Homo sapiens: one gene and its partners. The protein of the gene in region 2 purifies or fractionates together with the protein of the main gene of each other region. This does not show direct contact. Each region holds a gene or a part of one and is shown on either strand. Other genes may lie near its edges. The genes, in order: CLPTM1L, SLC38A4 and SLC5A12.

Region 1 (3,653 bases), on a different chromosome or scaffold from region 2:
GCTGGATGGAATGTGTCTGTAGAGGAGGAGCTGGATGGAATGTGTCTGTAGAGGAGGAGCTGGATGGAATGTGTCTGTAGAGGAGGAGCTGGATGGAATGTGTCCGTAGAGGAGGAGCTGGATGGAATGTGTCTGTAGAGGAGGAGCTGGATGGAATGTGTCTGTCGAGGAGGAGCTGGATGGAATGTGTCTGTAGAGGAGGAGCTGGATGGAATGTCCCTGTAGAGGAGGAGCTGGATGAAATGTGTCTGTAGAGGAGGAGCTGGATGGAATGTGTCTGTAGAGGAGGAGCTGGATGGAATGTGTCTGTAGAGGAGGAGCTGGGTGGAATGTCCCTGTAGAGGAGGAGCTGGGTGGAATGTCCCTGTAGAGGAGGAGCTGGATGAAATGTCCCTGTAGAGGAGGAGCAGGATGAAATGTGTCTGTAGAGGAGGAGCTGGATGAAATGTGTCTGTAGAGGAGGAGCTGGGTGGAATGTGTCTGTAGAGGAGGAGCTGGATGAAATGTGTCTGTAGAGGAGGAGCTGGATGGAATGTCCCTGTAGAGCAGGAGCTGGATGGAATGTCCCTGTAGAGGAGGAGCTGGATGGAATGTCCCTGTAGAGGAGGAGCTGGATGAAATGTCCCTGTAGAGGAGGAGCTGGATGGAATGTCCCTGTAGAGGAGGAGCTGGATGAAATATGTCTGTAGAGGAGGAGCTGGATGGAATGTGCCTGTAGAGGAGGAGCTGGATGGAATGTGCCTGTAGAGGAGGAGCTGGATGGAATGTGTCTGTAGAGGAGGAGCTGGATGGAATGTGTCTGTAGAGGAGGAGCTGGATGAAATGTCCCTGTAGAGGAGGAGCTGGATGGAATGTGTCTGTCGAGGAGGAGCTGGATGAAATGTGTCTGTAGAGGAGGAGCTGGATGGAATGTGTCTGTAGAGGAGGAGCTGGATGGAATGTGCCTGTAGAGGAGGAGCTGGATGAAATGTGTCTGTAGAGGAGGAGCTGGATGGAATGTGTCTGTCGAGGAGGAGCTGGGTGGAATGTCCCTGTCGAGGAGGAGCTGGGTGGAATGTCCCTGTAGAGGAGGAGCTGGGTGGAATGTCCCTGTAGAGGAGGAGCTGGATGAAATGTCCCTGTGGAGGAGGAGCTGGATGGAATGTGTCCGTAGAGGAGGAGCTGGATGAAATGTGTCCGTAGAGGAGGAGCTGGATGAAATGTGTCCGTAGAGGAGGAGCTGGATGAAATGTGTCTGTCGAGGAGGAGCTGGATGAAATGTGTCTGTCGAGGAGGAGCTGGATGAAATGTCCCTGTAGGGGAGGAGCTGGATGAAATGTCCCTGTAGAGGAGGAGCTGGATGGATTGTCCCTGTAGAGGAGGAGCTGGATGAAATGTCCCCGTAGAGGAGGAGCTGGATGGAATGTCCCCGTAGAGGAGGAGCTGGATGGAATGTCCCCGTAGAGGAGGAGCTGGATGAAATGTGTCTGTAGAGGAGGAGCTGGATGAAATGTGTCTGTAGAGGAGGAGCTGGATGAAATGTGTCTGTAGAGGAGGAGCTGGATGGAATGTGTCTAGAGGAGGAGCTGGATGAAATGTGTCGGTAGAGGAGGAGCTGGATGGAATGTCCCTGTAGAGGAGGAGCTGGATGAAATGTGTCTGTGGAGGAGGAGCTGGATGAAATGAAATGTGTCTGTCGAGGAGGAGCTGGATGAAATGTGTCTGTAGAGGAGGAGCTGGATGAAATGTGTCTGTAGAGGAGGAGCTGCATGGAATGTGTCTGTAGAGGAGGAGCTGGATGGAATGTCCCTGTAGAGGAGGAGCTGGATGAAATGACGCTGGAGCTCCACAGGCAGGGTCCCTCCATAGGTACGAGTCACAGTGCCGTGCCCGGCTCTGGCACCCGTCCTGAGCTCCGTGGGTGATGCCTTCCAAGCATTTAGCCATGAGGTGGCGGCTCTCAGAGCGGTCCCAAAACTGGCTCCAGGGCTGCCCGAGTGGCAGGCAGAAGTAGGTGGGGGCTTATTTGGGTGCAGGCAGAGTGGCGTAAAGAACTGCCCTCACATGCTGTTTTTGTTGTCCGCTGGGCGGTGGCTGTGCAGCCCACCTGACCAGGTACGCCTGCCGTGTGTGGGTTAGAGGCCCAGGTCCAGCCTCCAGCGCTCTGGCCTGAGCTGTGGGAGGGACAGGAAGAGGACAGTGGGCTGCGCGGGGCCATGGGCAGCAGGTCCTACCCGTTACTGTCTGGGTCGTTCATTCGTGGCTCCTGGCCTTCGAATATTAAAGGAACTATTTCCTGATTTCTCCCCTCAGCTGTGGAAAGTGAAGAAGGCATTGAAGATGACTATTTTTTGGAGAGGCCTGATGCCCGAATTTCAGGTAGGATTTAGTTGTAATGGCTGAACCCCAAGCCTCTCTGAAGAGTGTGATTTTGCCCCCTGTGCAAAGAGTAAGATGGCCATCTGCAGATGAGTCACTGCGGGCCTCTGTCAGGGGAGCCTCCGTGGTGGAGGCAGCACTGGTTTCTGATCGCAGCCACTCTCTTCGCCTGAGGATTCCCCGGTCATATACCTAGTTCTGACCGTCTTCAGTGCAGACGGCAGCACTTCTGGGCCTGAGCCGGCCTCTGGGAGGAAGGATGCTGGCTGGCCAGCACGTGTGCTTCGTTTTGGCACCTTGTCCAGAGGCGCTCCCGAGGCTGGTGCTGACTGGGGTCCGTACAGTCCTGGCAGTCCTGAAGTGAGTGAGCCCCTGCCCTGAGCTGGTGGCTGCCCCAGTGCCTGGGCGCCCATAAGGCCCCTAGGCAGATGAGGGCTGGGGCAGAGCTGGAGTTGAATCTCAGTGCCCACGGATGGACCTTGATTGAGGCGGGGCCCTCAGCAGTCACAGGCTGAGATTTTCCATGCTGTGGGCAGGGGGGTCAGGAAGCCCAGCACACGCAGCGCAGCCACTGTGTTCCACCTTGCCCCATGGCTCCCGGCCGGCTGGTTCGGAGCAGTGTTGGCTGTGCCTGTGTGCTCTGCAGTGTTCTCACTGAAGCGGTGGCACTGAAAACTGAGCCACCTGAGCAAGGAACAGCAGTGAGGCCGCGTTGCCCCCATCAGGCTTGTGGGACCCAGGGCCAGGGTGAGGCGGGAAGGATCCATGCGGATCCCCGTCCTCTGGGTCCTCTCCTCGCCTGGTAGGGACCTGAGCGCCCTCTGTAGTGAGGCCTGGGTCAGCTCTGCAGCCATATGTGACGCCCCTTAGTCACAGCTCAGCTGTGCTCAGATCCTCCCTGAGTCTATTAATATCACTGTGTTGAATTTCACAACAGTTTGGCACTTACAGCGAATCTGAGAGGAAAACCGAGGAGTACGATACTCAGGTAAGTCACTTGTGATTCAGGGCACGTGCATGCCAGGCAAATCCAACACCCTCAAAGACGGGTCTTTTACTGTCATTGCTCAGTGCGGAAGTCTCCTTGGAGTACGGGTCAGCCCGCCTTGAGCAGGGATCCCAAGAGTGAACACATAAAACCCAAATTTCTTACTGGGAAGGGCGGGGGCTCGCAGAGACTCATTTCCCAGTCCTTACAGGCACAGCCTGCCTGTGTCACCGTATAGTAGGGATATTTTCATCGTTTGTAAGTCACATTCGCCAGGCAGCTGACGCAGGCCATGGTGTCTGCTGTG
Region 2 (3,653 bases):
CAGTCTTCATTCTCACTAAATAGCAAAACTTTCCCCATAAATTCTGATTTACCTCATAAAAAATTTCAGAACACTTTCAAGTATTTTGATGTCTTTGATTTACTTTGAAAATTACATGTAGCAGTTACTCCAGAAGCCTGACAATTGATCTTTGGCAGCCAGGTTCCTTCTAGAATGGTTTTCAGAAGCTTTTCAGGTAGTCTGGACTCCTGGCAGTAGTACTTTGCTGACTCTACTAGGTTCTTTTCCTCATCTAAAGTCATCTCATTATGAAATGCAAAAGCTTTCTATGTTAGGAGCCTGTTTGATCTTTATGTTAATTATATTCTTATTCAGTGGGCAAGCTTACTGACCTACGTGAAATAGACTGTTCCTCTTCTAGGGAAATGATTGTTTTTAAGACTGAAGGACTAGTGTTTAAGAAAAATGGAAATGAATCCTCATTAGCTCTCTAAGACAAATTTAAATCAGCTATAAGTTTATGTACTAAATATGTCTTCATGATGAGCAATATAGATATACTTTTTTATTATTATTTTCATTTTGAAAAGTGATTTTTTTTTGTAAGTTTAAAAAACAAAGCTTGGTGTTCTTTCTTTTTCCAGTCGGTCCCGGAGAAAAATGCAAACGGTGTCAAATATTTCCATCACGGGGATGCTTGTCATGTACCTGCTTGCCGCCCTCTTTGGTTACCTAACCTTCTATGGTAGGTCACTCTGAAAGTCATTCTCTATATGCAAATCCTTGTTAGGCTGGTCCTTGACCTGGGTAGGTATGATTTTTAAAAATTGCCTTCTATAAGCATGCTCTATAGATGACACATATTCAATTAATATACTATTTTAGTTTTGTCACTTGACCTGAGGAAATGGGGCCTGATTCAGCCTGGCTAACAAGTTACAAGAATTTGTGAATTAACACCTATTTTATAAAAAATATCCCTCAAACAAAATTATTTTCCTCTAGGGATAGATGATATTTCTCTGGCTAGACTCCATAGTCCAACTCAGGCTACAAGTGATGAGAATGAATCCACTTGCATGTGATAAAGCTCCTTTGATGGAATTATTACCTGCCACACAAATAGCAGGGAAACTGCCAGGTCCTCAAGTTTGAATTTGCCTCCTCTTTACCAGTCAAGTCAAATCTGGGAGCTTGGGACTTTAGGTAAAATTTCTGACATATCCCATTCTATTTTGTTATACTAAATGATTTCCTAAGAAAGAGGACATGACAGAATTTCCTTCAATCTAAGAATGCACCACCAAAAAAAAGTGACTATGGCCACATTAGATTATGCCTGCAACATTTCCTCTCTGGCATCTTAACAGTTCACAAAGGGAGTAGGATTGTACTCCTTCCATGAAGTGTGGCCACATAAACAGATTTCATGGAATCACATATTGACCTGGTAGCATATGTTTACATGAATCAGTGTATCAATATAAATATATTTTTGTATAAACCTCCTTTTAAAGTTTTTAACTTAATTTTTTTCTTACTGACTTGGTAAATTGAATTGCATGTATGACAAATTGTGGAGGAAAAGATTCAGGAGTAGGCCACCATTTGCTTAGGTTTTTTTTCTATTTGACTAATATTTGACTATTAACCAAACATGTGCTTTAGATTGGGCATTAACTTTTTGCCGGTTGTGAAATAATGAATGACGAGGTCAATACTACTGAAGGTATTTTCACTCCTTTTTGTCTGATCTTGAGGTGAAAATCCAACTACGCTTGATTCCATAGATATTTTCTTGTTATTTGTGCTTGGAGTCCTGAATGAAGGTGTTTTCAAGTAGGGCTGCATCTTCGTCTTAGAGTAGTACCCACTGGGAGACCATCTAAAAATTATACTAATTTATCCCTGCATGTTACTTATACTTATTTTAATGAGTTTCATAAGACAAGCAAAAACTTGAAAGAGCCCAAAAATATCTGTTTTAGTGTGGTGATGGAGTCATAGTTGTTGAGCTTGAAAAAATGGTAGCAATCATTCATCCTAGAGTTTACACACTGGGTTTGTAACCTGCATCAGGAGTGGCTGCGCAGGTAGGGACAGGGGAGGTGGTAGGCTGGGAGAGACAATATGTGGGGCTTGGGTCTCTCATCCCCTTCAACAAGAGCACCTTGGTCTCTGTCTGATTTGTAATTGCTTCTGTACAGCGGAGATAGATTTATCACAATGTAAATGAGCTTGAGAGGCTCTTTATTTTGTATTATACCTTCTGCAACGTTATCAGCTTCAGGACCTCTTTGTTCATTTGAATGAAGGTTGCATAGCTAATGAGCTCAGAGGCAAGACCAGAGGTGCCTGGATTCCCAGGCCTAGGTCTTTTCCTCTGTTCTGTGTTCTCTCTATAAAATGTTGCCATAAGTGACCTGTGCTGATTTGACAACACCAAGCGGTTTCATTCTCTTTTTCCTGTTGTAGGAGAAGTTGAAGATGAATTACTTCATGCCTACAGCAAAGTGTATACATTAGACATCCCTCTTCTCATGGTTCGCCTGGCAGTCCTTGTGGCAGTAACACTAACTGTGCCCATTGTCCTCTTCCCAGTAAGTACATAAGACTTTGATGAAAGAAACCTACTTGACCCCATAAATTAGTACATGTGTTCTACCTTCATTTTGATTTAATTATAGGGTGAGTTTGCAATTGCAATGCCTGAGGATATTATTTTCCTATAGCATTTTGAGTCACTTAAAATTGGCCATTTAATGTGTAGATAGAGCAAGTAGTTTCAGGTGGTATTTTTATAGTGTAGGAAAAAAATCATAAAACTTATTTTTAAACTCAAAGTTGAAAAGTGGAGCTGGAGCTTCTGTCTTGTGGATTAGTAAAACTGAGTAGGAGTTCATATAACTTTGGAACCTTGAAAGCCAAAACCATATTAACTTTCAAATCTTATTAAATTTCATCACAGTTTTGAAGGCATTTCATTTTTTTTCCAGTTTGTTGTGCTGCAATAATATACAAAAGTTGCCTTTTTTAACCTGATGCCTTGAAGGCTAATGAAAAGGGGATTCATGTTAAGTAAATTATATACCAGAAAAAAATTTTTCAAAAAACAGTTATGCTATCTATCACATATCTCTCTCACACATGGCCTCTGCCAGACTCACACCAGGTCACCCCTCCCTGGCATTTGTCATTGGTGTCAGTTTGTTCTGAGATCCCAGAGCAGAGCTGGTAGTGAAGATTTGGGCTGTGTGAGTTAAAACCACCACCTAAGGATAAACACAGGTCTTCACCCTCCTGCCAGCTCCTGTTTCATAAACACTGAATTTACTCATTCATTTGAGGGGGAAAAAAATAAGTGACACAGTAACCAGCACTGTCCTGGACATAATGTTCCATACAGGGCTTGCATATGAAGACTATTTCTATAATGACACTGTGGTCACTTTAAATGCAGCTTGTGTGCTGAAATATATTTTGGCACATTCCTTTTTCATGAGTGCATGAAATCAGATCCGTACTACTATGGTGGCTAATATTTTACTCTTAAATCATGTCTTGCCTCTAATATATCTGAAAGTATTTCAGATGACATACACATAGCTTTAGCCTAAAATCAGCTCCGTCTTGGGTACAAGACAGAAGACAACTATAAACAGAAGGTATACGATAGGGTAAAATTGCCAGGC
Region 3 (3,653 bases), on a different chromosome or scaffold from region 2:
AGATTTGTTAAAGCCTCTTAGTGAGCAGACCTGAGGTTATCAGGCTAGCCCTAAGGCCTCATTTGGAAGACAGGGACCAGGAGGCAAGAACATCTGGTGGTCATGTTCAAAAATTTTTCCAAATGTTTGAAGGCATAATTAGACTTTGTTAGAGTGTTCGCTTTTGGCCTGAAGGGCATTTGACTAAGACCTGGCTTATTTGGAGAAAAAGAAAACAAAGGGATTAATACTGGAAGAGTTATTCATGCTGAAAATGTGTAAGAATTTTCAATCAAATTTAATATAAGTGCTGCTGTATCAACATAAGAGCATGCTAATTCTGGTGCACACATGGAAAATATGGACTGGCAAACTACTGGATTTCATGTGTACACATTTCCTGATTTAGAAGGAAATGTTCAGGCAGCTGAAATCTTGGTTGTCTTCTTAGTGGTGACCGATCACTAAACTGAAATGTCTAGGTATATCCCACTAGCATCAAGGAAGGAGTTACAGATGTCAGGGTACTAAGGCAAAATCTAAACAAAATGAATAAACAATCTTTTGCCTGAAACCATTTACATAAAGACATTGAGAGAGTTGTTATTATGTGAAAGACTGGGGTTACAAGATTTATAGTCTATTCTTTATCATAGCCAAGATCTTCTTAAATTTCAGTGAATGGCTAGTGACATCATGCACAGAACAATAGGGCATTGGAGCTTCAATATAACATCTCTAGTACACAGTCACCAGAAATGTTGCCATTCAGGTTTTGTGTTGAGTCAGAATGTTGGCCATTGTTCATTGGTATATAATAGTCATGGAAAAATAGAATACCTTAAAATTTTTTAGCTAAAATACATACTCCAAGGAGGTGGAGGGACAAGAGTACAGTGAACTTATTCCACCCCATTATCTCCCACACTCTCACCACTACCAACCCCTCATGGGCTTTGAAACAAAAAGGACATTAATACATCAAAAGGGCAAGTATGGATGGTAGACACTTTGCTAAAAATGGCTTACAGTGAAGCTGCTCACTGCAGAGAACTCCACGACCCTAGAGAAGCAGCCTCCAAAGGACAACATAGGCAAAAACAACAGTGTTTTGCTTTTCTAGTAAGTTAGCAAAGGCTGACTTCATGAGATAGTAAGATGGTGATGACAAAAATCTTGTCTCTTACTGGGATGAAGGGAAAAGAACCACTCTGAATATTTAACCTTATTTACTGATTGTTATATTACAGAGGGTTTTTCATACTCAGGCCTCTGGGGGGCATGTGTCAAAGCATCTTTTTTTAAATAATATATGGGAAATGTTTGAATATATGTTTTTTTGTTTGGTTGGGGTTTTTTTTGGTTTTTTGAGACGGAGCCTTGCTCTGTTGCCCAAGCTGGAGTGCAATGGCACCATCTCAGCTCACTGCAACCTCCACCTTCTGGGTTCAAGCGATTCTCCTGCCTCAGCCTCCCGTGAATATATGTTTTATATATTAATAGTCAGGTATATAATAATGAAGGGTGCCTTTGTATGTCAGCGTTGAGAGAGTAGACATCTCTGTGGGAAGAAGGGTTTTTGTGGGAAACGTGAATTCAAAGCAATAAGACAGACAGCCAGTCCACCAATGCATGCATGAGCCCATATCTTCTTTAGTCCCAAAGGGAGGAATTATAACCAACCTGTTATGAGGCTGATGATTACTCCAGCAACAATGCATCCTAAGCAGCCCACTGCACTGTAGTAAAGGTAGGAGATCGAGTACCAGGTATCAGCTATTCCAGGTCTGTGGAGAACAGCACATGTCACCAATTCCATGCATCCTAAAGACCCACAGTGATGTAGAGGACTGCTCAGGATTCATTTTAGGGCCTGGCATCTCAAAAGCCTAAATCATAACTTTTTGTCATTTAAAAAATTATATTTAGAGAAGATGTGCTTTGTATTCCACTCAATTCAATTCATTCCTGAATTACAAATATAACGATGTTGATACTGAATCATAAGTATTACAATGAGGATTGTGTCTTAATACAAATAATACAATTTCATTTGTATTATTTATTCTTCAGACTTTTATTAAGCCCAGATTTAGTGCTAGTAATTGTGACAAGCATTAGTGATATAAAGATGAGAAAGTCACAAAGTCTACATACAGGAGCTAATAGACAATCATAAAATGGGTTGGTTTTGCCTCAGTAGAAAAGGTATAAAATACTATGGCAGCCTTCAGAGTAGTATCAAATTCAGACCAATGCGTGAGATGATACCTCAGCTCATTTTGAAAGAATAATTAGTAGTTAATCAAGCAAAGAGGGTAGTCAGGGCCAGGAATTAGCATTCTAAGAAGAGAATACAGTAAGTATAGGCAGGAGGGAAGAATCAACATGGTTTATGGGGAACCATGAATAGGTTGAAATTCTTCGATATAAAATTTATGGAAAGAAAATGAAACTCAAAGACAAATGGAAGCAAAATAATGGAGTGCCCATTTGGAACCTGAGTCAAAATGAACTTTATGGAGGAATAGGAGACACTAGTATGGCTCTTGAAAGATAAACAGATTTTAGGAGAGTGGAAATGAACACTAAAATATATTCATGTAAAGGGAATAGCTTAAGGACCCAAATGTAGGAAAGAGTGGGATAAGCATAGGTAGACGAGAAGAAACAGAATTCAGAGTAGAAGGAAAACAATAGTTAATAACATTAAAACCACAGGAAAGTTTTAAGTTTGGCAGGTATTTAGCTCCAGGATAAAAAGGTTGTGTTTTATTCCATAAGCACATGAATCATTTAAGTCATCTCCATGTGGTAGTAATGAGTTCAGAAAGGTGCTTCAGAAAAAATAAATCTAGTGATGCTTGGATAGAATGGGTTGTATTAGAAAGGAAAAGAGATAGAAAAATGGAGGAAATAAAAAATACAAATAAGATAATTTCACTTTTCTGGACTTTGTAAAGACAAGACTAGCCTCAAGATTGACAAGGACAATGGAGAGGAGAAGATATGCCGGACCGAGAGAGACTTTCATGAATGCAATTTGCCACATTATCTGGCCAGTTTGAGAAGCCTGGACTCAGAGGGAATGAGCCAGTATGGGGAGATATTGATGATAATCAGAAAAGGGCTACTAAAAATGAAGTACTTTTGAGGATACACAAATAACACAAATCCTATATTTTCTAGACTTGCTCTTACATACAATTAGAATGTGAGAGTGAACATTTATTAAAGTCACGTGTAGTGCTACTTTATATATATGTATATATATTCATATATATATATGTATATATATTCATATATATATGTATATATATTCATATATATATGTATATATATTCATATATATATGTATATATATTCATATATATATATATATTTCCTCATTTTTCCATCAAGGGCTCTGAGAATTCAAGAAGTTACAACTTACTAACTTGTCCAAAGATACAGAGGGAATAAATTATAAAACCAAAATCCAAACCCAAATATTTCAGATTTCAAAGTCCACAATCGTCTCTCTACACCATAGTATCTGATGTATTTTGATATATTTGATCACTTACCCCAGCCAGAAGTACAAAGGGAAATCCTTTGTTAAACCCTGTGTTCATATTGTTTGGTTTAGAAGCCATAGGTTCACAGCGGTGCTCCTAACTCAGCTTGCCCATAAG

The links.
Region 1: the proteins of SLC38A4 (region 2) and CLPTM1L purify together in Homo sapiens (affinity purification with mass spectrometry; one large-scale study listed by BioGRID and IntAct). This does not show direct contact.
Region 3: the proteins of SLC38A4 (region 2) and SLC5A12 purify together in Homo sapiens (affinity purification with mass spectrometry; one large-scale study listed by BioGRID and IntAct). This does not show direct contact.

What each region holds. Positions count from the first base shown.
Region 1 is NC_000005.10:1,324,456-1,328,108, reverse strand, and holds part of CLPTM1L (lipid scramblase CLPTM1L), read left to right. Parts: intron 1-2,292; coding exon 2,293-2,358; intron 2,359-3,295; coding exon 3,296-3,346; intron 3,347-3,653. UniProt on the Homo sapiens protein: Scramblase that mediates the translocation of glucosaminylphosphatidylinositol (alpha-D-GlcN-(1-6)-(1,2-diacyl-sn-glycero-3-phospho)-1D-myo-inositol, GlcN-PI) across the endoplasmic reticulum (ER) membrane, from the cytosolic leaflet to the luminal leaflet of the ER membrane, where it participates in the biosynthesis of glycosylphosphatidylinositol (GPI).
Region 2 is NC_000012.12:46,773,957-46,777,609, reverse strand, and holds part of SLC38A4 (sodium-coupled neutral amino acid transporter 4), read left to right. Parts: intron 1-605; coding exon 606-706; intron 707-2,436; coding exon 2,437-2,561; intron 2,562-3,653. UniProt on the Homo sapiens protein: Symporter that cotransports neutral amino acids and sodium ions from the extraccellular to the intracellular side of the cell membrane. The transport is electrogenic, pH dependent and partially tolerates substitution of Na(+) by Li(+).
Region 3 is NC_000011.10:26,677,050-26,680,702, forward strand, and holds part of SLC5A12 (sodium-coupled monocarboxylate transporter 2), read right to left. Parts: intron 1,767-3,653; coding exon 1,663-1,766; intron 1-1,662. UniProt on the Homo sapiens protein: Acts as an electroneutral and low-affinity sodium (Na(+))-dependent sodium-coupled solute transporter.